4 linked regions of the Homo sapiens genome follow. The protein of the gene in region 1 interacts with the protein of each later gene in a pairwise test. Each region holds a gene or a part of one and is shown in the gene's direction. Other genes may lie near its edges.

Region 1 (3,231 bases):
AGGAGACATTTCACAGATACCTCAGCCAGGCACCATGAGGCCTATGAGGTCAAGAATGGAGAGAAGTTTGAGAAATTAGGAAAAAATATTAGCGTCAGCACACAACTCACTACAAATCAGACAAATCCTAGTGGTCAGATATCTTATGAATGTGGACAATGTGGCAGATATTTCATTCAAATGGCAGACTTCCACCGACATGAGAAATGTCACACTGGTGAAAAGTCTTTTGAATGCAAAGAATGTGGAAAATACTTCAGATATAACTCATTACTTATTCGGCATCAGATAATTCACACTGGAAAGAAACCATTTAAATGTAAAGAATGTGGAAAAGGTTTAAGTTCAGACACAGCCTTGATTCAGCATCAGAGAATCCACACTGGAGAAAAGCCCTATGAATGTAAGGAGTGCGGCAAGGCCTTCAGTAGCAGCTCTGTCTTCCTCCAGCACCAGAGGTTCCACACTGGGGAGAAGCTCTATGAATGTAACGAATGTTGGAAAACTTTCAGTTGCAGCTCAAGTTTCACTGTCCATCAGCGAATGCACACTGGGGAGAAACCTTATGAATGTAAAGAGTGTGGAAAACGATTAAGCTCCAACACAGCCTTGACTCAGCATCAGCGAATTCACACTGGGGAGAAGCCCTTTGAATGTAAGGAGTGTGGGAAGGCATTCAATCAGAAAATAACCCTGATTCAGCACCAGCGAGTTCACACTGGCGAGAAACCTTATGAGTGTAAAGTGTGTGGTAAAACCTTCAGCTGGTGTGGAAGATTCATTCTGCATCAGAAACTACACACTCAGAAGACACCTGTCCAAGCATAGGGCTATCCATAGTTAGGCCCACTGTGCCTCTCCTTTTTTCTCTTTATTTTCATGCTTTTTATCAGTGTCCTCGCTGTCCTTCCTGGTTAGACACTTGGCTTTCATCATGAACTCTTCTTTAAGTTTTTTGAACCTGTTTCCCCAACATGAAGTCTCTTTATGGTTAGAGAAGACCAAAAAACAAACAAACAAACTTAGAAACATAAAAGGAAATGTAAGTTTCCAGATTTAAAGGACATGCTGGGTGCCCAGCAGGATGGATTCAAGGGAAACCTACATTAAGGAAAATTGCTGTGAATTATGAAAACACCAAGTTTGAATAAGAGGATCATGGAGAAAAAATGAGACCCTAAAAAGTTTCTAGAGAGAGAAAACAAAAGATCAGAAATGAAAGCGGGGCCAGGCGCGGTGGCTCGTGCCTGTAATCCCAGCACTTTGGGAGGCTGAGGCGGGTGGATCATGAGGTCAGGAGTTCGAGACCAGCCCGCCCAATATGGTGAAACCCCGTCTCTCCTGAAAAAAAAAAACACAAAAATTAGCCAGGCATGGTGGCGCATGCCTGTAATCCCAGCTACTAGAGAGGCTGAGGCAGGAGAATCACTTGAATCCCTGAGGCAGAGGTTGCAGTGAGCTGAGATCGCACCACTGCACTCCAGCCTGGGCGACAGAGTGAGACTTTGTCTCAAAAACAGTAAAAAATGAAAATGGCATTAGATTTTTCAAGAGCAACCTTCAAAGTCAGATGACAATGTGTATGCCTTCAGACTTCTCATGGAAAATGTTTTCCCCTGCAATTCTATACTCCAAAGTATAAGTATAGAATAAAGGCATTTCAGACCCTTTAAATCTGAAATCTTTATCTCCCATGCATCCTTTCTCATATGTGCAACACTACACAAGGAGTAAACCAGTAAATAAAAAGACAGATATATGGATTCCCTATTGCAGTCCGTACGTCAGAAGTCTCCTAAATTCAAAAACGGGCCCTGTCCATGTGGAGCCAAATGCATCTTGGAAGACATTCCTAGTAGGGTGCAAACTTCCAGAGACCTATCTCAGGTTCAGTGTCCACCCACCCTACTTATTCTTCAGTTTGTCTTCACTAGACAGTTGTACTCTGTGCCTTTGCAAAAGTCAGGATGTATATACTCTTTGAGTCAGGTGCAAGGCACCATTTGTCTTAAATTTATTCTCATTGCTGTTTCAAGTGACCTCAAAGCAGGCAGCATTTTCTTGCAATTCCATCTAGTTATTTTTTATGATCATGGAAGAACCTACCATTATTGCTGTTACCTGTGGAAATGAGGGAAGATGTAAATGTGTTAGGTTTTAGCATCCCCTCTGGCAGCCAGCTTGATTTTGCAGGAAGCAGAGAGTAGTGATTAATAATACAGAGCCAGGCAGACTTTGGTTTGAGTCCAGGTGTTTGTCCTTGGTTAAGTTACAAAAACTGCACTAGTTTCCTTATCTGTAAAATGAGGATGACAGTTAATCTACCTCATAGGTTTGTGTTGGGGATTAAATGCATTATTTGTAGAAGTGTTTCAAACAGTGACTACATATAATAAAAGTATTACCTATTATTGGCCGGGCACAGTGGCTCATGCCTGTAATCCCAGCACTTTGGGAGGCTGAGGTGGGCAGATCACAAGGTCAGGAGATCAAGACCATCCTGCTAACACACTGAAACCCTGTCTCTACTAAAAGTACAAAAAATTAGCTGGGCGTGGGGTGACATGTGCCTGTAGTCCCAGCTACTTGGGAGGCTGAGGCAGGAGCCCAGGGAGGCAGAGGTTGCAGTGAGCCAAGATCATGCCACTGCACTCCAGTCTGGGTGACAGATTGAGACTCCGTCTCAAAAAAAAAAAAAAAAAAATTTTTACCTATTATTATAATCCTATTGGTAAGTTTTGACTTATCAATATACTAGTGAAACAATTATCACAGTTCAAGATAATAATCAGCCACCACCCCAAAACTTTGCTTGTACCCCTCCATAATCCCTTCCTCTTGGCCCTTCACAGGCAACCACTGGTTTGCTTTCTGTCACTTGGATTAATTTTCCTTTATTTTTTGGTCTGGTGTCTTTCACTCAGCATAATTACTTTGAGATTCACCCATGTTGTTGCATATATATCAATAGTTCATTCCTTTTTATTGCTGAGTAGTATTCCACTGTATGGATATGCCATAATTTGTTTATTCATTGACCTGTTGATGGCCATTTGGGTTGTTTTCAGTTTTTGGCTATTACAAATAAAGCTGCTATGGACATTTGTGTCCACATCTTTGTAAGAATATATGCTTTCATTTATCTTGATACAGGAGTGGAATGGCTAGGTCATTAGGTAGATTGGTATAGATTAAACGTTTTAAATTTTTATTATGTTTTTATTTTTTAGA
Region 2 (7,605 bases), on another chromosome or scaffold:
GAGCGCCTCCCCGCGGTCGGCGGGCGCCGAGAACCCGCGGCCCTTCTCCCCGCCGAGGGCGCCACCGCCCCCGCCCCCGCCCCCGCCCCCGCCCCCGCGCATGCGCTCGCCACAGCCCGCCCGCCCCGGCTCGGCTGCTGTGCCGGGGGCAGCCTTCGCGCCCATCCCGCGGAGCCCGTTGCCCGCCGGTCCTTCGTCCTGCACCAGTCCCCGGAGCCCGCTGCCCGCGCCTCCCAGGCCCTTCCTCTACCGCCGCTCGCCCACGGACTCCGACGTGTCCCTCGACTCCGAGGACTCCGGGGCTAAGTCTCCAGGCATCCTGGGCTACAATATCTGTCCCCGCGGGTGGAATGGCAGCCTTCGGCTCAAGCGTGGCAGCCTCCCCGCCGAGGCCTCCTGCACCACCTAGAGCCCCACCCCCGACCCCACCCCGGGAGGGCAGAGCCAGAAGAAGGCTCATTAGACCTGGGGGACCCAAAGGGTCTGGCCTCTTTGGGCAGCCCCAGAGATGAGGGGTCAGCAGAGGAGAGCTCTGGGGTTGGGGATGGGTTAGGGACGCAAGCTTGAGTTCTAGCCCTTGCTCTCATTCAGCTGTTGTGTGACCCTGGGTAAGACCCTTCCTTGTTTGACCCTCAGCTTTCCCATCTGTTTAATGGTGGCTTTGGCCAAGGCAATCCACAAACGTCAAAATTCCCCTTCCCATCAGTACACACACCGATGCACACACACTCTCTCTTTCTCTCTCTCTCTCTCTCACACACACACACACACACACACACACACACACACACACACACACTAGTTAGTGCCTTGGATGAGGCGGGGCAGTGTGTATATGGACCCCTGGACTTGCTACCTTCAGGGTTCCATACTCGTCCCTCCCCTCCTGGCTCTGCTGTCTGGAGTCTGGCAAGCGGGGTGTGTTCAGAAGGTCCTAGGCCTGTGTCGCATGTCCAGGCACTGGCCTGACCATCCGGCTCCCTGGCACCAAGTCCCAGGCAGGAGCAGCTGTTTTCCATCCCTTCCCAGACAAGCTCTATTTTTATCACAATGACCTTTAGAGAGGTCTCCCAGGCCAGCTCAAGGTGTCCCACTATCCCCTCTGGAGGGAAGAGGCAGGAAAATTCTCCCCGGGTCCCTGTCATGCTACTTTCTCCATCCCAGTTCAGACTGTCCAGGACATCTTATCTGCAGCCATAAGAGAATTATAAGGCAGTGATTTCCCTTAGGCCCAGGACTTGGGCCTCCAGCTCATCTGTTCCTTCTGGGCCCATTCATGGCAGGTTCTGGGCTCAAAGCTGAACTGGGGAGAGAAGAGATACAGAGCTACCATGTGACTTTACCTGATTGCCCTCAGTTTGGGGTTGCTTATTGGGAAAGAGAGAGACAAAGAGTTACTTGTTACGGGAAATATGAAAAGCATGGCCAGGATGCATAGAGGAGATTCTAGCAGGGGACAGGATTGGCTCAGATGACCCCTGAGGGCTCTTCCAGTCTTGAAATGCATTCCATGATATTAGGAAGTCGGGGGTGGGTGGTGGTGGTGGGCTAGTTGGGCTTGAATTTAGGGGCCGATGAGCTTGGGTACGTGAGCAGGGTGTTAAGTTAGGGTCTGCCTGTATTTCTGGTCCCCTTGGAAATGTCCCCTTCTTCAGTGTCAGACCTCAGTCCCAGTGTCCATATCGTGCCCAGAAAAGTAGACATTATCCTGCCCCATCCCTTCCCCAGTGCACTCTGACCTAGCTAGTGCCTGGTGCCCAGTGACCTGGGGGAGCCTGGCTGCAGGCCCTCACTGGTTCCCTAAACCTTGGTGGCTGTGATTCAGGTCCCCAGGGGGGACTCAGGGAGGAATATGGCTGAGTTCTGTAGTTTCCAGAGTTGGCTGGTAGAGCCTTCTAGAGGTTCAGAATATTAGCTTCAGGATCAGCTGGGGGTATGGAATTGGCTGAGGATCAAACGTATGTAGGTGAAAGGATACCAGGATGTTGCTAAAGGTGAGGGACAGTTTGGGTTTGGGACTTACCGGGGTGATGTTAGATCTGGAACCCCCAAGTGAGGCTGGAGGGAGTTAAGGTCAGTATGGAAGATAGGGTTGGGACAGGGTGCTTTGGAATGAAAGAGTGACCTTAGAGGGCTCCTTGGGCCTCAGGAATGCTCCTGCTGCTGTGAAGATGAGAAGGTGCTCTTACTCAGTTAATGATGAGTGACTATATTTACCAAAGCCCCTACCTGCTGCTGGGTCCCTTGTAGCACAGGAGACTGGGGCTAAGGGCCCCTCCCAGGGAAGGGACACCATCAGGCCTCTGGCTGAGGCAGTAGCATAGAGGATCCATTTCTACCTGCATTTCCCAGAGGACTAGCAGGAGGCAGCCTTGAGAAACCGGCAGTTCCCAAGCCAGCGCCTGGCTGTTCTCTCATTGTCACTGCCCTCTCCCCAACCTCTCCTCTAACCCACTAGAGATTGCCTGTGTCCTGCCTCTTGCCTCTTGTAGAATGCAGCTCTGGCCCTCAATAAATGCTTCCTGCATTCTTCTGCCTCCTGTGTCATTTTCAGCTGTGTCTGATGTCCTTCCCTTCTCCCCAAGCATGGAGCAGTCCATGGGACTCTGGGTGGCTGGGAATATTTGAGACATATGGGATGGGAGCTTGGGAAGAAGCAGCCATGGGGAGAGATGGGAACAACGGACAACTTGAGGCCATAGAAGTACCTGGACTGCAGTCCTGGTCCTGTCATGGACGAGCGGGGTGACCCTGGGTGAGCCCACTCCTTCTCTAGGCCTCAGCTTCCCCATCCGTATAATGGGGAGAGTGGGTCTAGGTAATGTCTCAGGGTGGTATTGTCCAGGCCCTGACCACAGAGCACTATCACCAGAGTGGGCAGGGCCAAGCTGGGTCAGGGCTCTGTGCTCTGAGGCTGTTTCCTCATGGCAGGTGGGGGTGCCAGGGCAGGAAAGGCGCCACTGTAAGAGGTCCCGTCTGAGCCAGGCAGCCCCAGTGAGGCAAGGACTCGGGCCATGAGGCATCCTCTCCTGGCAGGAGTGTCCTTTGGCCAGAGAAGGGGATTGTGATCCTGCTCCCAGGTGAGGCTAAGCTTGCCCTGGGAACACACCTCACTCTTCCTCTCTAGAAGCTCAGGCCCACCGAGGGCCAGGAAGCTAAGGTCAGGGTGGTGGACAGCAGAATCTAGGCTTCTGATTTGAGAGGTGTCAGAAATACACCCCAGGATAGTCTGCCAGCACACAGACACCGGTGGTCCCCACCCTGCACCCAGCCCATCCTTGCTAGGCCCACCCTTCCCCAGGAGTGTGTGCCTTGGACCCAATCTTTATCTTCGGCTGGGGCCTCACTGCAGCACAGTGTCCCATTGCCTACTGGTGATCTCATCCCAGTCCCCCGACACCTCAAAGTTCATCCAAAACTGACCTCAGTGTCTGCCCCCACCCCTCCTGCTCCTCCCCTTCCAGTCACCCAAGCATGAAACAGGGGAGTGGGACTCCCTTTCCTCACCTTCCACATCCAGTTCCTCACCAAGACCCAAGGGTTCTTCAAATAACCCTCAACTCCCTCTCCTCTCCATCTCCTTGTCACTGCCCTGATCCAGCCACCCCTGGTGACAGTCAGGTCCTCCTGCCTCCAGTCTGGCCCCCTCCAACCCATTTCCCACATGGCAGCAAAGATATCTTTGGAAAATGCCAATCCGATCACTCCATTTCACCACTTTAATCTTGTCAGCAACCCTTTATAAACACAGTTTCCTTTTGAAAGCCTGCTGGGATCTGGCCGCTGCCCCCACTGTCTGGGCTAATCTCTCAGCACTGCCCCCAGCTCCGGCTCTACTTGCCAACCCCCTACCCATCTTTGTAGGTGACATGTCCACTGCCTGCCATGCCCCTTCTCTGCCCAGTGAACTCCCACTCATCCTTCAAGGCCCAACTCCAGTGTGTCCTCCTCTGGGAAGCCTTCTCACCCCCCACCCCAGGCTGAGCTGGTAACTCCCTCCCCTGGGCTCTCCCAGAGCCTTCCCCAAAGCTTGTTTACCCGTCTGAATCTGACCTGGCTGAGCTCCTTGAAGACAGAGCCCTGCCTTATTTATTTTCAGTCCTTAGAGAGAGGCTCAGGGAATGTGAGAAGGTAGAGGGAGGGAGGGAGGGAGGGAGGAGGGGAGAAAAGAAGGCAGGCAGGAAGGAGGCAGAAGAAGAAAGGCAGGAGAGAAGAAAGGAAGGAAGAAAAGGATAAGTCAAGCAAAGATATTGAGGAGCAATTCATTCATCCATCTATCTATCCATCCATTCCTTCCTTCGACAAATATCTGCTGAGTTCCTATCAAGCACCATTCTTGGCACTAAGGATATAACAGTTAACAAGCGGAAGCTACCAGCAGCTGACCCTCAACATTTCCAGGTGACTTTGGTGTGTGCATATGTGAGTGTGTGTGTACACGTGGGTGCAAGCCCTCTGTCTGCACAGGCCTGTTGCCAGGGCACCTGTCTTCCCTAGGGTCTGGTGCTTTTAGCCTCTGGCTCCAGCTCCTATTGCAGCCCGAAATAAGGCTGTGACCCATGGCAAGGCAGGAATGATTCTCATCAGCTGAAGCCAGAGCTGGCTGCAGGGGACACCCTGCTCGCTGCCTACTGACTGCTGACCGCTGACTGCCTACAGGGACGCCACGCAACTCTCAGCTTCCCGACAGAGGTGTTAATCTTGAGGGTCTAAGATTCCCTCCTGCCTATTGTGGTCCCATCCTCTCAGGTACCAGCATCCTAGGGGAGCTTGGGGAACTCAGGGGAGTGGGCAGAGGAGGTGAGCCAATCCCCAGAGCTCCTTCCCCCGGAGAGGAAGGGCCCTGCAGTGGATCTAGGGAGTTTGGGGCCCCATGCAAGCCTCGATCCTGGTTTGGGAGGAGAGGAACTCTAAGCTCTAGGTTACCCTGCATTAAATGGGGAGGGTGTGGCTAGGATTAAAGGTGGGGAATAGGTAATGGCTCTGCTCAGGACTTTGGGATTTTTAGGCAGTAGAGGGAAGCAGCTTCTCTGTAAAATGAGAGACCCTTCCCAGCATCTGTGAATTTCTGTAAAGGGAGTGTTTATCAAGAAACAGATCTGTGGACTGTGGAATCCTAAACGGTTGTGATCGAGGCATTCTCAATCATCCCATGACCCTCACCCCAAATGCATGTAGACACACTCATGTTTACGTATAGTTTTAGGGGGTTTGTGAACACCCTAAAGCCCATCCATGGATCTCTGTGATTTAGCCTAACCCCCTACTGTTACAGATGGGGGAACTGAGGTGCAGAGCTGGAAAGCTACTTGTTCGCAGTTACAGAGAAAGCCAGGGACACCCACTAGACTCCAGTTGCACAATGCAGTGCCCACTGACTCCCAGGGCCCCTTGTCGGTGTTGGGGATACAGATGAAGGCAGATTGTTTTCTAAAGGAAGGAGTATAGGAAAACCTGGAGGCAAAGGAGAAGGGTACCCAGGTGGGTGGTCAGTCGAGGAGCTCAAGGGCTCTGCCTCTTCTCCAGAGGGCAAGTTAAGGTACCTGGGCAAGTTAAGGGCTCTGGACCTCATTTTATTTGCAAATCTCTTCCAAGATTCTTTGAAAGTGCCATGAGATACAAATAGGGGGATGGAACAGGAGGAAGAGAAGGGACGAGGGAGAAGAGAACACCACGGAAGTTAGCCCAGTAGCGGGGAGATGGGGAGGACGGGGGATGGTTCTCTCTGCTTGGTTGGACCAGCCTGTGCCCTCAAGCGTCAGGGCCAAGTGCCAAGGATGAAAGGGGCTCACCAGCCTTGCAGACCCCAGTGTAACCCCAACCTAGTCCATCCTCCCCCTTCCCCTAACTTAAACCTCCAACTTCTTTCAGCCTTGGACTAGGACTCTCCTGGGTCAACCGATGACAGTAGTGCCTGAGACCTTTGCCTGCCCCACCCGGATGCCCCTGGCACCTACTCTCCCTCTGATCAGGATGCCAGAGCTGGGAAAAGGCCCTAGAAACCACCCCTGAAGAGACAGTGCTTCCCTAGCAACATGAAAATAGATTCGTGCAAACTTGAGCACCTCCCTCTCGTTCCCTGGGCCTCAGTCTCCTCTGCACGGAGACCCTGAAGTCCCTTCCAGCTCAGACATCCCTTGCTTGTGATTTGGGGCTGGCCTAAAGCTGTTCAGGACTGGGGCAGGGTGAACCAGAGACTGGAAGGAGGTCTGGGGAGAAATGGAGGCAGCCTGGTCCATTTATGGGGGTCTCTCCTCCACAGGATGATCCCCAAGGAGCAGAAGGGGCCAGTGATGGCTGCCATGGGGGACCTCACTGAACCAGGTAAGGTGGTTCTAGCCTCATGCCTTCCTCAGACTCCATCATTTCCTTGCTCCCAGGCTGCACTCACTCTGGCCTGCTGGCCCCAGGCCTGGGCAGACAGGTGTGAGCTCCAGGCCAGCTCTGAGGGAGTGCCTGTAGAATTTGCTGCCTAGGCTGGGAAGCTTCCCTGAGGCACTGGGAGGGGTCTTGCCCATCTGTCCACAGACCCAGGAGCTGAGGCTGAGTGTCCCAGGCTGGGCCTTGGCTCTAAAATGACCCTGGCCCTGGCTTCATCTAAGGCCTCACCTCAGCCCCAAATTAAGCTCTGAAGACTCTGGTCCCAACTCCAGCCCTACCTGTGGCTGCAAGCTCTGCACACACTTGCCTTTGCCTATTACTCCTGTGGGTCTCACCGAGGCCTCTGGGTGGCCCAGGATGGCTGGGCCCCATGGCTAAGAGAGGGGAGTGGAGAGAGTGGAGTAGGGTGGGAAGACAGGGGAGTCGAGAGAGTGGAGCAGGGTGGGAAGAGCAGGCTGCCCATTTGAATACAAAACTTTCTACTTAAAGCTGATTCATCAAATGAGTAAATCATTTTTATCATTTCATTAAAAAAGTTTAAATTCATTTTTATCAATTTTAGAAGACCTCTTGAGGAACTCTTGATACAATTTTGGAATCTGTTTATTTGGTCTACTTTAGAGGATTTCAGGTATTTTAAAAATTAATTTAGGGGCTGGACACAGAGGCTGATGCCTTTAATCCCAGCACTTTGGGAGGCTGAGGTGGAAGAATTGCTTGAGCCCAGGAGTTTGAGACCAGCCGGGGCAACATGGTGAGACTCCATCTCTACAAAAAAAAAAAATTAGCCAGGCATGGTGGCACATGCCTGTGGTCCCAGCTACTCAGGAGGCTGAGGCAAGAGGATCGTTTGAGCCTAGGAGTTGGAGGCTATAGTGAGCTACGGTTGTGCCACTGCACTCCAGCCTGGGTGACAGAGGGAGACTCTGTCTCTAAAAAAAAAAAAAAAGAAAAAGAAAAAAATTAATTCAACTAAGTCAGAGTTCTCAAGCTTTATTGTGAATCATAATGATTTGATGTTGGTTAAGCATACAGAGTCCCAGCATCTACTCCTGAGGATTCTGACTCAGGGGACCTAAGTTAGGACTTGTGCATTTGCCTTCAGCGTGCTAAGGAGTCAGTCATATTTCATGACTTCATATGTGGCATCCTTTTAACCTATTTTGTGTGCTCTTGCCTCCTTTTGTTGATGTCCAGTTTCTTCCCCTACCCTGATTTTGTAGC
Region 3 (7,033 bases), on another chromosome or scaffold:
AAAATCTTTGTACCTCTGTGGGATCCTTTGCCCCTTCATGTCCCCCCGAAAACAACCAGAAAACCCCTAACTTGTACTTGCACACTCATGTCAGCTGTCACCTCATACAGGTAGCCTTTAGCCATTCTCTTGTTTGCCTGTGTCACCCCAGCTGGGGGAGACTCCCCCCCACAGCACCCTGTGTTTGCCTTTTTCACCACGCTGTCCATGCTCTATTCTGTTCAAATTTCTTTCTCCCCAACTATGTGATGAGGGCAGGAATTGGCAATTTTATTTCTGTGTCCCTTGCATGATGCCAGGTACATAGTGGGTCTCCAGGCAGTTTCAGCATAGGATAAAAAATAAAACAAAGCCAGGCTATGTGGTTTCCTAAAGCCTTTTTTTGCACTTTCCGTTAGACTCCAGTAAAGAGCTGGAGGAGTTGAGGGCCGCCTTTACTCGTGCCTTGGAGTATCTGAAGCAGGAGGTGGAAGAGCGTAAGTATGCCCCAGCCTGTGGTTTTGCCCAGTTGTATTTCCTTGTCTGTACTATTTCCTGGTTGATGTACCTTTTCAGCCAGCGACTATCTGTCTCCAAGTTCCTTTCTAATTTTACTAATTCTGTTTTTGAAGGTTTCAATGAGAGTGGTGATCCAAGCTGCGTGATTATGCAGAACTGGGCTAGGATTGAGGTAAATGTTTTTGACACATCTAGCACTTTCATCCATCATTGTTTAATAGCATCCTATTAAACTTTAATTAAAATTGAGTCAGAATCCCAGATAATGGCCTAAGCTCTATAAGGATTTATGTTATTACCTAGGTAATGGTCTAGGCTCCACAAGGATTCATGTTATTTACCTAGCTTGACATATATTTGTAAATATGTTGGTGAAAATATTAGCTCCCAGCTAGAAGTTGTGCAGTAAATGTTTAGATGCTAGGTATTCACTCGTTTACTTCTGTCTCTGCCTCTTTGCTTCATTTGTGAGAGCACAGTGAGCGTGTACTGTTTGTCAGCACTGTACTAGGTGCTGTGGGAATAAGACAGATAAAATTCCTTTGCTAGTAAGGCTTCTATCTAATGTAGAAGACAGATGATTTGACAAGTAATTAGAGGATATGATGACTTGAATGTCATTACTGGGTCAGGGACACCAAGGTCAGTAAGACACGGAACCTCCCTTGATCAGCAGGTAGGATTGTAACAATTCTAATCATGTTTTCTCCTCGGAGGGAGCGTCAGATAGAAGAAACTAACATTTGTCAGGTAGTTTTTATATGGGATGCTTATCTTTTAACCATTTTAAAGATGAGAAAACTGAGAATTACAGGTTAAGTAATTTGCCCAAGTCACAGTTTGTAAGTATTAGTAGCAGAGTGTGCATTTAATACTAGATCAGTCTTTTTTTTTTTTTTAACATTGTCTCTCAAACACTTGTAGTTAAGCTTGATAAAAATAAAAAACGTGACTATCTAGTACTGTCGAGTAAGTACCGTGCGCTCCCTCTCTCGGTTCTCAGGAAACATAGGTAGATTAGCTTGTGGCTGCAGAAAGGCTCAAGTGTTTGGGCTGGGTCGTTTACCACTGGAGGGAGGCCTGGGGAATGCCCAGGGACATCTGTAACACTAATAGTTGTGGGGTGCTTTTTATGTGTGTCTGTTGGAAGTGTGTTGTATGATGGGTGTCGACGTCATAAGGTTCAGGTCTCCTAACAGCCTGCTGATGCACTTTAGGCTCGACTGTGCAATAACATGCAGAAAGCTCGGGAACTCTGGGATAGCATCATGACCAGAGGAAATGCCAAGTACGCCAACATGTGGCTAGAGTATTACAACCTGGAAAGGTAACTGATCTCGGGGTGGGGAGGGAGGCAGTGCTTGTCAGCTGTGCACCTGTCTTCACTCCTGGCTGACTCCTACCAGCTTGGACTAGCTCCTTAGAACTGGGCTGTTTTCTTTCATTCTGTCTCTTTCAGTAGTGGGTACATTTTTAATGGGCAGGGCTAGAGAACCAGACATGATATTTTGTGCCTGGAACTCTTATAGCCATGCATTTCTTTTAATTTGTTTTTGTCTTGATTTTTGGGCATGATATTTTATTTGACCTTTTGGAGCTATTTGTTTTTTATATTTGCTTTTATAGAAAAGTAGAAAATACTAAAAAGCTAAGAGAAAAAAAACTCAAATTACTGACCCAGTCATAACCATGACCCATTCTTTGAGACTTTTCTATGTTTAAATTTTTTTGTAATGAAAATGCAATTATAGCATGCATGTGTTACAAGCCTTTAAAACTATTTGAACGAAATAAGATAGGCCTAACAATATTTATAACATGGGGAAAACATAAAGAATGTGACCAACTTTTCAGTCTGTCTTGAACGTTGTTCATTGCATAACATTGCTACATTGCTGGGTTTTCTTTTTTGAAGATTTTTTCCCTATTTAAAAAACACTGTGTGCCCAAATTAGAATATTTACAAAAATATGTGATAGAAAGCGACAGTTTCTTTTCTTTTTTCGGGGGAGGTGGGGAGTCTCACTCTGTTGCCCAGGCTGAAGTGCAGTGGTGCAGTCTCAGCTGCAACCTTGCCTCCTGGGTTCGAGCAATTCTTCTGCCTCAGCCTCTTGAGTAGCTGGGATTACAGGCGTGCACCACCACACCTGGCTAATTTTTGGATTTTTTTTTTTTTTTAGAAGAGGCACAGTTTCACCATGTAGGTCATGCTGACCTCAAGTGATCCTCCTACCTCGGCCTCCCAAAGTGTAGGAATTACAGGCATGAGCCACCATATCCGGCTAAACGTGACAGTTTCTTACAATCCCACCCCAGAGATAACCACTGTTAAAGCTTGTTGAATATCCCCCTAGATCTGCAGTTCACAATTTTTTTGGTCTCAGGATCCATTTTCCACTCTTAAAATTGGAGGATCCCAAAAAACTTTTATGTATGTGAGTTATATCTATTGATATTTATAATTTATAAATTGAGAAATCTAAAAAACATTTTAATTTATTTAAATATAACAAATTATCTAACATTAATATCTTTTTTGAGCAGTGACTGTTTTCCAGACCCCAAAATAATATAGTGAGAAAAGTGGCAGTGTTTTCTATTTTTGCAAATATATTTATTTGCACATTATTCTGACCTAGGAGAAGACAGCTAAATTCTCATGTCTGTTACTGATTCTGTCTGTTGTGATCTGTTGTTTTCATTGAAGAGGTTAGGAAAGAAAGGTATTTTAGAAGCATTTTCAGATAATTGTGGGTATTCTTCTTTCATACATATTATAGCAAAACTTCAGTGTTGCATGTGGAATCTGAAACCATATTGACAGAGTCTGTTACAGTAATACCCATTTGTCTATTTTATCTTTTACTTGATGCCACAATTCTACGACATTATTTGGAAAAATCCCAATTCACTAAATCATGCAGCTCTTCCAATGTTGACATATTTCATCCTATAGTATTAAAAAATCGTATTTGTTCATATCTGTATTGATCTTAGTTGAAAAGTATTTTAAGTAGGAAGCTGTCAGACTTGTGGTGGCAGATACAAGTTTTCCAAAATTCTAATTTTCACTTGAAAGCTTGAATTCTATCACATGCAACAAATAATGTCAGTGGTTTTCCCCAGAGTGGCAGCCTCACTTTGTTAATTTTCAAAAATGTCTGCCAAATACCCAGGTCTGAGTAACTGACCGTGGTTTGTCACTCAAGTTTCCTTTCAAGTAAAAATGGTGTCCTTGAAAAAAATGACTTGATTAGCTTGCAACTCAAACAGTAATATGCTTTTTTTTTTTTTTTTGGCAATAACCATTGTACTTCAGTATGCAGAAGGGCTTTAAGTGTACTTAGTATTTCATCACACAGTGCATTAAAAAGATTTCTACTGCCTTGATTTGTGCTAAGGGCCACCATTACTTGTGCACTGTCTTGAAGATGTCAACACAGTGAAAAAGTCCAGTAATGTCTTGGTATTATTATAAAAGGAGTTTTGACTTTGCAGGGCCCCTGAGAGGCTCTGGGAGATCCTCAGGGGTACGTGGATCTTACTTTGAGAACCAGTGCTCTGAATTTATTCTGAGCATCATAATATGTATATATAATTATGTATATTTAAAATGTTTTAAAAACAAATATGAATACACTGTTGCATAACAGTTATGATTAGCAGAATTGTGTAGCTGTTGTGATTAGCAGTGTACAAAAAGGATCTGTTTGCGACCAGCCTTGCCAACCTGGTGAAAACCTGTCTCTATTAGAAATACAAAAATTAGCTGGGTGTAGTGGTGGGCACCTGTAATCCCAGCTACTCAGGAGGCTGAAGCAGGAGAATTGCCTGAACCTGGGAGACAGAGGTTGGAGTGAGCCGAGATCGTGCTATTGCACTCCCACCTGGGTGACAAGAGCGAGACTCCCTTTCAAAAAAAAAAAAAAGATCTGACTCTGGGTATGAAATTTGACACTACCCTGGATTCATAACTCTCCTGTCAGTAGGACGCCATAGTAAAATTTCCCTGGGGACTGTATCAGGTTACAGAGAGCTGTTGGACTCCCCCGCCATGTGCCGCACATGTGAATGCTGTAAAGGCAGAATGCTGGTTGCAGATCACAATATCAGGTACACTTTCCAGTAGCCCCTACATGGCTGAGGGAGAGAGTGCTTCAGGGAAATACTTCGTAGGTGACTGTAGAGACTCTGGAAGGAGAAAGCATCATGGATAGATCTGAAAGCTAAGGTCTTCTCAGAAGCTAGAGTTACTGAAGAGTGAGTTTCTACCTGGGAGAAGACGGCCTCTCCCTTCGAGTGCCTTCCACTTTGTGTCCTGGTGGCAGCAACTTTTTGTTTTCTGCCTTAGAGCTCATGGTGACACCCAGCACTGCCGGAAGGCTCTGCACCGGGCCGTCCAGTGCACCAGTGACTACCCAGAGCACGTCTGCGAAGTGTTACTCACCATGGAGAGGACAGAAGGTGGGACCCCCAGCTCTCTTCTGGCTTGGAGCCTAACCCATTTGCTGTTTGGTCTCAAGTAGGAGCATCTGGTTACAGTCTGGGGACAGACTGTGTTTATGCTGCCACCTTAGGTGGTGCCCTATGATTAGACTGTCACAAGTGTCCTGAAAATGAGTCCTCCTGCAGCTCTTCTCAAATTCTGCAGCTACAAGGAGGACTCTGTGATGTCACTGTAGCACAGGGTTCTAATTCTCTGTGGGGGGGACTGTGCGTTATACAATGTTTAGGGGCATCCCTGGCTTCTAGCCCTGAAATGCCAGTAGCAGCTTCACCACCACAACCAAACATGACAACCAGAAATGTCTCTTAACATTGCCAAATGTCTCTTGATGGGCAGGATCCCTCCTTTGAGAGTCACTGTGCTCTAGTACAACATCTATCCAACAAAGGAGCTTGGAGAGGCAAATGGCTCAATGTGTCCTTTGCATCCCTTGTTAAATTTCAGAGCCTTCAGTGTTAGCTAGAACCAATAGAAAAATAATGTGAACTTATCTGTGGGTATTGGTCTGGATTTTGGGTATGGACCCCTCAGAACTGGCTTGCAAAGACCACCAAAAAATAAGAAATAAATGCCTCAACATTTGAGTAGCTCTTAAAATTCTTCAGTCTTAATATAAATGTACTTTTGCATTAGAACGTTCGTTTTCATATTCTTTGCCATTTAGAGCCCTTAATAGATCATATTCTGGTTTTCAAGTCTCTCCTGAAAGGAGAGGGACATTTTAAACCCACTTAGAAGGACTATTTGAATTCTGAACTTCAAGCCTACAGGGATTACATTTTCTTATTGTTTGATGGGAGAGATCTCTTCTGGAGGTACAGAGAAATTAAGAAAAATTTATGTGATTGTATCCTTCAAAATCCTAAAGAGTGAAAGTTTTGCTTCTCTTTCTTTCAAGGTTCTTTAGAAGATTGGGATATAGCTGTTCAGAAAACTGAAACCCGATTAGCTCGTGTCAATGAGCAGAGAATGAAGGTAATGACAATGTTTGAAGTCTTTGGCACCTCTGGTAGCTATTTTGGCTCAGTTTGGTATGGATGTTTCTTGTCAAGATGTTTTACATTTTCCTAAGTGTCTTTTACTCAGTATTAATTATAAAATATTTAGATCAATGCTTAAACCTGTCTTGTGTCATTTTTACATTGTTCTAAAACATCAGCCCCAATATTAAGTACTTGTTTCATTTAGTGAGGGAATTTTGGCTCTAAAATTTACGAGAATTGATGAAAAAGAATAAAGAAGAGCCTCACTTAGCCTAGTGAGTGGAACATGAACACCCCAACTTATTTAGGGCTTCAGTTTTATGGATTTTTTTTTTTTTGAGACGGAGTCTCGCTCTGTTGCCCAGGCTGGAGTGCAGTGGCATGATCTCGGCTCACTGCAAGCTCTGCCTCCCGGGTTCACGCCATTCTTCTGCCTCAGCTTCTCGAGTAGCTGGGACTACAGGTGCCCGCTACCACACCTAGCTAATTTTTTGTATTTTTTTAGTAGAGATGGGGTTTCACCATGTTAGCTAGGATGGTCTCGATCTCCTGACCTCGTGATCCACCCATCTCGGCCTCCCAAAGTGCTGGGATTACAGGCGTGAGCCACCGCGCCCGGCCAGTTTTATGGATTTTTTTGCCTTCCTTTTGGTGAGTAATGATTAGGGTGAGGAAATTGCTAATGTAACAGAGACATCAGATCCAGAATTCCAACGAACCTGAATGAGCCCTGGTGTGGAACAGCCGTGAGCCTGTCCACGTTTTTCTCCTGATCTCTGCTTTTCATTAGTAATGAATTTCCACTCCTTCTCCCCTTTCATGACAAATCAGTACAGTGAATGTAATTGCCACATCCAGCGATGCATCATCTTCCCACTTTTCTAGGCTGCAGAGAAGGAAGCAGCCCTTGTGCAGCAAGAAGAAGAAAAGGCTGAACAACGGAAAAGAGCTCGGGCTGAGAAGAAAGCGTTAAAAAAGAAGAAAAAGATCAGAGGCCCAGAGAAGCGCGGAGCAGATGAGGATGATGAGAAAGAGTGGGGCGATG
Region 4 (7,888 bases), on another chromosome or scaffold:
ACCTGGCTGGTATCCGTGGCAGGTGGGGACCTCCTCTTTTGGCTTTGGAGCCCCCCTCCCCCTGTCTCTACTGGGGACCTTCTTCCTTCTGTCTCCTCCCTTCCTTGCCTATTAAACTCTCCGCTCCTTAAAACCACTCCATGTGTGTCCATGTTGCCGGCACGAGGACCAAGAACCCTCGTGTTCCTCCACTCATCTGAGCCGTATCACTTGGGAAACAGCAGGTGCAAGGAGTTCACTCTGACTTTTCTTCTGTTTCTTAAAAGCAGGAGATGAAATTCCCATGTGAAAGGTGTCCTCCCTATACCCAGAAGGAAAACATCATTCTTATCATCAAGGACAGGAAGTTGAGGCTAAGGGAAATCTGTACAAACCAACCTTGTTAAACTAACTCTTAGCTTTCTAGTCACTTCTCCACTCAATTAACTACCCTATCCTTGTATGCTTTGCCTTGTCACATTTTCATAATTCACTAACTCTTTATCCAATTCAGTTTATAAGTGTTCAATTGTAACTGTTTCTTTGGGTCTTCATTTCCTTATGAAGGATCCTATGCCACATAACACTTGTATGAAATTAATTTGCATGTTTTTCTCCTGTTGCTCCATCTTATGTCAATTTAATTCTCAGGCCCAGCTGAAAAATCCTAAGAGAGTAGAGGTAAAATTTTGCCTCCTTTACATAATGGCAAATACAGGAGAGCAGATGGCCTCAGCCCCAGTAGCTCCAAGTCACTTGACTTCTATCTTCTCCATTTTCTGCCTTTGCTTGTTCAAACTCTTGCCTCTGTTCCTTCTAACTCTTCCACTGGCAGGAACGGTCTGTGTCTAGGACACATTATTAGGTCCTTAGAATGGATAAAGGGCTTCTTGGTTTATAGATAAAACCCCACAGGAGGATTCCGATTGGCTCTATTTGAGACACTTGATCATCCTTGGACCAACCACTGTGGCCAGATTGGGAATGGTTCTATGACTGGCAGCCCCAGGAGGATCAAAAGTAGTAGGGAAGGTCAGCTCTAATAAACAATACTAGGCTGACAAAAACGATAGATATTTCCTACAACAATGTACTGATAAAAACCAGGGCTCCAGCTGGGCATGGTGGCTCATACCTGTAATCCCAGCACTTTGGGAGGCCAAGGCAGGAGGATAACTTGAGCCCAGGAGTTCAAGACCAGCCTGGGCAACATGGTGAAACCTCTTCTCTAAAAAAATAAAAAAATTAACTGGATGTGATGACAGCGTACCTGTAGTCCCAGCTACTCAGGAGATTAAGATGGGAGGATCACCTGAGCCTGGGAGGTCTACGCTGTGTCACACGCGTCAGTGTGAAGAGACTACCAAACAGGCTTTGTGTGAGCAATAAAGCTGGGTGCAGGCGGGCTGAGTCTGAAAAGAGAGTCAGCAAAGGGTATGGAATTATCATTAGTTTTTTCTTTTTTTTTTTTTTGAGACGGAGTCTCACTTTGTCGCCCAGGCTACAGTGCAATGGCGCAATCTCAGCTCACTGCAACCTCTGCCTCCCAGGTTCAAGCGATTCTCCTGCCTCAGCCTCCCAAGTAGCTGGAACTACAGGCACCTGCCACCACGCCCAGCTAATTTTTGTATTTTTAGTAGAGAAGGGGTTTCACCATATTGGCCAGGCTGGTCTCGAACTCCTGATCTTGTGATCCTCCTGCCTCGGCCTCCCAAAGTGCTGGGATTATAGGCGTGAGCCACGGCACCCAGCCTATCATTAGTTCTTATACGTTTGGGATAAGCGGTGGAGTTAGGAGCAATTTTTTTGTGGGCAGGGGGTGGATCTCACAACGTACATTCTCAAGGGCAGGGAGAATATTACAAAGTACGTTATCGCAAGGGCGGGGAGGGTGTATTGTCATACGGTCAATTGATCAGTTAGGGTGGGGCAGGAACAGATCACAATGGTGGAATGTCATCTTTTGTGGTTCTTCAGTTGCTTCAGGCCATCTAGATGTATATGTGCAGGTCACAGGGGATATAATGGCTAAGCTTGGGCTCAGAGGCCTGACACGCTGCGGTGAGCCTTGATTGTGCCAGTGCACTCCAGTCTGGGTGACAAAGCAAGACACTATCTCAAACAAACAAACAACAACAAAACAACCAGAAGGCCGGGCGCAGTGGCTCACGCCTGTAATCCCAGCACTTTGGGAGGCAGAGGTGGGCGGATCACCTGAGGTCAGGAGTTCTAGACCAGCCTGACCAATATGATGAAATCCCATCTCTACTAAAAATACAAAAAAATTAGTCAGGTGTGGTGGAATGCACCTGTAATCCCAGCTACTCAGGAGGGTGAGACAGGAGAATCGCTCCAACCCAGGAGGTAGAGGTTGCGGTGAGCCAAGATCGCACCATTGCACTCCAGCCTGGGCAATAAGAGGGAAACTCTGTCTCAAAACAAAAAAAAAAAAAAAAAAAAAGAAAGAAAAAAAAAACCAGAGCTCCTATGGAAACACAATAACTTTATTTAAAAATTGGTAAAGAACTTGAATATACATTTCCCCAAAGAAATATGCAAATGGTCAATAAGCACATGAAAACGTGTTCCATCAATATAATTAGGGAGATGCAAATAAAAAGTCATGAAACACCATTTCACACTCACTGACACGGTTATAATAAAAAGTTCAGATAAGTGTTGGCAAGGATGTGGAGAATCCTGCTGGGGAGGGGAGTAAAATGGGACAGCCACTTTAAAAAAATCTGGCAGTTCCTCAAATAGTTGAAAATAGAGTTCCATAAATACAGAAATCCCTTGGTATCTGCAGGGTGGACTGTTTCGAAGACCCCTGTGGACTCCAAAATTGACAGATGCTCTTCTTGCAGTCAGCCCTGTGGAATCCGCCCATAGGAAAATTCCTCTTATCCTCAGGTTCTGCAACCTGGGAATACTGTAATTTTTGATATGTGGTTGGTTGAATTGGAGGATGCAGAACCCACAGATAGGGAGGGCTGACTGTATACTACTGGGCACATGCCCAAGAGAAATGAAAACGTATTTGCACAAAAATGTGTACATGAATGTTCATAGCAACGCCAAAAGGTAAAAACTTTTTGATAAATAAAATGTGGCATATACATACAATGCAATATTATTCAGCCAAAAAAGGAATGAAGTACTGACACATACTACAAAATGGATGAACGTGTTACAGGTGGCAGGTATCCAAGTTACCAGGGCAAATCTGTATGGGTCTGCAGCAACTTCAGTTCTTGCCTCCTCAGAAGAAAGAATTTGACCGAGGGGCAATAAGGCACAAAAAGAGACTGAGGCAAGTTTCAGAGCAGGAGTGGAAGCTTATTTAAAAGGCCTTTAGGAAAGAAAGGAAAGCACGCTCGGAAGAGTCCCAAGCTGTCACTGAGGTCAACTGTGATATTGACCTCGATCCTAGGACTTTACAGGCTGGCTCCTTTCCCATGATTCTTCCCTTAGGGTGGGCTGCCTCCATGCGCAGTGCCCTCCTTACCCTTGGGAAGTGAGCACAGCGCAATATGTATGAAGTTGTATGCGTGCCCATCTGAGGCTTTCTTCCCTTTTCCGATAGAGTCCCCCTGAAAGGTCATACTCCCCGATTTTGTCTCTTAATGCATATGCCCAGGAAGTTGCTTCTCCCTGTCACCTGCATTCAACGAGCACTTTAGTGCAACAGGTGTGGGCCATCAGGAAATGGCCTCTCCCTGGCACCGGCTGCCAATTTATCACTTTTAGAGGCAATGTGATAAATGCCTAAGCATCACCCCACATTCCTAGTGGGTGAGGGAAGAGCCCTCTCCTGCCCTGCTCATGCCTAACTACCTGTAACAAACCTTGTAAACATTAAGCCAGCCACCAAAAGACCATATAATTCCGTTTATATTAAATGTCCAGATTAGTTAAATCTAGAGAGACAAAGTAGGTTCTTGGTTGGCTAGGGCTGGAGGAGTTGGGAGGATCAGGGGTGATAGCTAAAAAGTACAAGTTTCTTCTTTCGAGTGGTAAAAATGCTCTCAAATAGTGGTGATGGTTGCCCAAGCCTGTGAATATACCAAAAATCACTGAACACTTCAAATGGGTGAATTATATGGCATGTGATTACAGTCTAATAAATAAATAGTATGTCCTGCTGTATCCTTCAGGGCCTCTGAGAAATGGAGAGAGCTCCATCTGAAGCCAGACTGAGTTCCGATCCTGCTTCTATTTTCCCCGCAGGTAAATCCTTCCTCAACAGCAACACGGGGTGATACGCCCTATCCGGAAAGGTTGTTGTAATTTTTAAAAACATTAAAAACATACATTAGGGTTAATCATGTAGCGTGTGATACACAGACGCTCTGAAACACTACTGCACACGCACACCAACATGGGGCCTCTGCGGAGCTTGTGAAAGAACCAGATCTGGAGGGCTGGTCGTGTCCCTGGTCTCGGCCCTCGCCCTCCTTGTTTCTTAGGCTCTAAAGCAATCAGGCAGCAGAGCAGTCCTTGAACCCCAGTCAAGAAAAAGCCCTGCACCCCTTAGTCCGAAAGCCGCAAGGAACGGGGCCTAAGCGCCTGGCGAGGCCGCCCTACCGGGCAGAGACAGTTGCTACGTAACTCGGGGACCAGAAACCCAGCCCCACCCGCTGCGGTTAACCGACAGCCGCAACGGTTCCCGCACCGCCCGGGTCGGAGAACAATGCTGCGCCCTGCACGTAGAGCCTCGCGGTGCCGCGCCCTGGGGCGGGCCTGCCCATGGCCTGCCGGGAAATGTAGTTTCTGATGCCCTGCCCGCGCCGCCTCGCCGCTCGCCGGCCGGGCGCCCCAAGCAACTACAACTTCCATCACGCTCTGCGAGGCCTTGATCTGCAGGCTTTTGCAGGGGAAGGAGTGGGGCGAACATGGCTGAAGGAAGCCGAGGTGGCCCTACGTGTAGCGGGGTGGGTGGCAGGCAGGACCCAGTCTCCGGCAGTGGCGGCTGCAACTTTCCAGAGTATGAGCTTCCCGAGCTAAATACGCGCGCTTTCCATGTGGGCGCCTTTGGGGAGCTGTGGCGGGGCCGTCTGCGCGGGGCCGGGGACTTGTCGCTGAGGGAGCCGCCGGCATCCGCTCTGCCTGGGAGCCAGGCAGCTGACTCCGACCGGGAGGATGCCGCGGTGGCCAGGGATCTGGACTGCAGCCTGGAGGCGGCGGCTGAGCTGAGGGCGGTGTGCGGGTGAGTGCGGAGCAAAGGGGCTCTTGCAGCTTGGGGTCAAACAGGGTGCAGCCTTGCTCGTGCGCTCCTCTGGGACTCATCCCTGAGAAGGGCCTGTGGTTTAGACCTGGGCTAGGAGTATTACCCTTTAAAGCTTTCAACCCGCTGGAGCCTTCCTGGGACACCAGGAGAAGTCCTGGGACCCGAATGCACAGTTTCTACGAGTTGGAGCAAAGGGACAAGACAGCTGCATCAAAGACTAGTTTTTCCATTTGCTTATTCTAAGAGTGCTTGTTAATAAAGAAAAGCAATCAGGGCAACAGCGACGTGTACCTGCCATTGACAGACACTTTGACAATGGAGGAACCTGAGTAATGGTGAAGCTGCGGGAGACTTCATCAGAGGAGTGTTAAAACCCCGACTAACTGGTTTCTTTTGGGGACCTTCCGGGTATTCTGTTACTGAAATATTTCTTAAAAGTGCCTTATTTGGGGATGAAAATATAAAAATAACTTTAATCTCTTTCTCCATTTAACAGTACTGGCTGCCTTCATCGGCCTTTTCATTATAAAATATAATCACAGAAATCGTTGTCTTAAGTTCTGGCCTCTCTGAGCCGCCTGCTGGATTTTATCTGACTTCGTAATTCAGTAATGTATTTAGGAAAACAACCCTAACTCGCTGTGAACCAGATGCAGAGTCGACCTTAAAGTATTGCTTTTCCTTTTTGTTTTAGCCTTGATAAACTGAAATGCCTTGAGGACGGTGAGGATCCAGAAGTCATTCCGGAGAATACTGACCTGGTGACTTTGGGGTATGGAGGACTTGGTTTTTATGACCTATTTATTTAAACATTTTTTCAACATTATGTTTTGAAAAGTTGAAAGTGCAGTATTGATTGTTGTCTGTATACCCACCCCTTAAATTCAGCTGTTCTTAATATTTGACCATATTTACTTTAGCCGTGTGTATGGGATGCCTGCTGTGTGTTTTTTCATTTTGCTATCCCCCATTCAGTAAGTTAGACATGATAATTTACCCGTAAATACATAAGCATATAGCTTCTAAAAGTATCATTCTCCTACATAATTATTGTGGTATTATTATACCTAAGAAAACCGTAAATACATAATCTATAATATTCAGTCCATATTCAAACTTGTGTTTATTTTTTAATATTTTTGAATGTTTGTTTATAGAGGTAATCTACTTAGATCTGGGGGGCAACCTAAATACTCTGACAGTGTTTTTCAAACTATTTGTGGTAAAGGACAGTTCTTGTTTTTAAAAATTTTTAATCTTTGACAGATTTATGCTTTGATAAAATACTATAAAAAGAATTACTAGAAAAATGGAATTAAAAAAGACAAACACAATATAAGTTCAAATTTTTAATTAAATTCAATAGACAAAATTATTCAATGATAATGGAAGTTTCTAAATGCTTACTGTCATTTTCTGTACAGATTGGTTAACAAATAGGTCATAGATGAATTCTGGTCTGCCTACCACTCTTTGAGAGGCACTGTTGTATGATAATATAGAGAAATTGTGCATGTAATAGTGAAATTTATAATTTCCAATTTATAGTCCACTTATTTCATACTACCTCAGCTATGTTCTGTCGTTCTTGATCCTACGCTATTATCCCCCTCAAATATTCAGGCAGTCATTTCAACTCTACTTGGGTTTTCTTTCATAATAACTGCTAAATCTGTTCCCCTGGTCCCTACTGCTGACTTTTACAGCAGCAACACCTGGAGCACTGTGCAAGGTTCTTAAGTGTCTTTGATAAGTACAGTCATTTCTCCCACTGATTTATCCATCATGCTGTCGCCTGAGCAAGCCATTTTGCTTAAAAATGGTCTATGGCCCTACATCTCCTATATGGAAAAATTTCAAACTCCTTAGCTAGACATTTGAAGCCTTCCACATATATCCCAAATTTGCCTTTCCAGATTTATTTTCAACCACTTTCTCTTTCAGATGGCTCAGGATGCATGTGGCCTCTCTCCCATCTGAAACATACCACTTCTATGTTATGTTATGTTACGTTATTTTTTTGAGATGCAGTCTCACTCTGTTGCCCAGGCTGGAGTGCAGTGGCGTGATCTCTGCTCACTGCAACTTCTGCCTCCGGGTTCAAGCGATTCTCCTGCCTCAGCCTCCGGAGTAGCTGGGATTACCGGTGCCTGCACCCTCGGCTGCCTAACTTTTTTGCATTTTTTGTAGAGACGGGTTTCACCATGTTGGCCAGGCTGGTTTCAACTCCTGACCTCATGTGATCTGCCCAACTCGTTCTCCCAAAGTGCTAGGATTACATGCGTGAGCCGCCACACCTTGCCCATACCACTTTTTTAAAAGCCCAAAGATTCCTTTCCAGATTACCACAACCCATCTTTCCCTTAGGAAACAGATGCATTTATACTGCCTTAAACTCTTAACATTTCTAAAGTCCTTGAAGGCTCAATGAGAGTCCAAACTCCCATCTGTGTATTGTTCTCAAGCCTACTATACTGCCTTGCTCCAATTGGTGCTCTGTAACTATTGTTGATTGATTAGTTGTATTTGTCTAAAATGCACATCTGATTGTCACTCCCTTGCCTAAAACCTTTTGATGTCCCTTAGGCTGAAGTCCTGAGTCTGTAGTGGCTCACAAAGGCCTCTAAGGAGTGGACCTTGCTGTTTTCATTTTGTTTTGTTTTTGAGATGGAATTTCAC

The links.
Region 2: the proteins of ZNF620 (region 1) and MYOZ3 interact in binary tests that used the Homo sapiens proteins (3 or more experiments, as listed by UniProt).
Region 3: the proteins of ZNF620 (region 1) and SART3 interact in binary tests that used the Homo sapiens proteins (3 or more experiments, as listed by UniProt).
Region 4: the proteins of ZNF620 (region 1) and SNAPC3 interact in binary tests that used the Homo sapiens proteins (3 or more experiments, as listed by UniProt).

Annotation. Positions count from the first base shown.
Region 1 is NC_000003.12:40,516,036-40,519,266, forward strand, and holds the end of ZNF620 (zinc finger protein 620), read left to right. Parts: coding exon 1-828; 3' UTR 829-2,701; downstream 2,702-3,231. UniProt on the Homo sapiens protein: May be involved in transcriptional regulation.
Region 2 is NC_000005.10:150,656,679-150,664,283, forward strand, and holds the start of MYOZ3 (myozenin-3), read left to right. Parts: upstream 1-4,572; 5' UTR 4,573-4,749; intron 4,750-6,262; 5' UTR 6,263-6,263; coding exon 6,264-6,324; intron 6,325-7,605. Other genes in the region: SYNPO (synaptopodin), read left to right, coding at 1-409. UniProt on the Homo sapiens protein: Myozenins may serve as intracellular binding proteins involved in linking Z line proteins such as alpha-actinin, gamma-filamin, TCAP/telethonin, LDB3/ZASP and localizing calcineurin signaling to the sarcomere.
Region 3 is NC_000012.12:108,530,151-108,537,183, reverse strand, and holds part of SART3 (spliceosome associated factor 3, U4/U6 recycling protein), read left to right. Parts: intron 1-398; coding exon 399-476; intron 477-611; coding exon 612-670; intron 671-1,715; coding exon 1,716-1,825; intron 1,826-4,849; coding exon 4,850-4,962; intron 4,963-5,903; coding exon 5,904-5,980; intron 5,981-6,873; coding exon 6,874-7,033. UniProt on the Homo sapiens protein: U6 snRNP-binding protein that functions as a recycling factor of the splicing machinery. Promotes the initial reassembly of U4 and U6 snRNPs following their ejection from the spliceosome during its maturation.
Region 4 is NC_000009.12:15,418,006-15,425,893, forward strand, and holds the start of SNAPC3 (snRNA-activating protein complex subunit 3), read left to right. Parts: upstream 1-4,870; 5' UTR 4,871-4,874; coding exon 4,875-5,188; intron 5,189-5,903; coding exon 5,904-5,981; intron 5,982-7,888.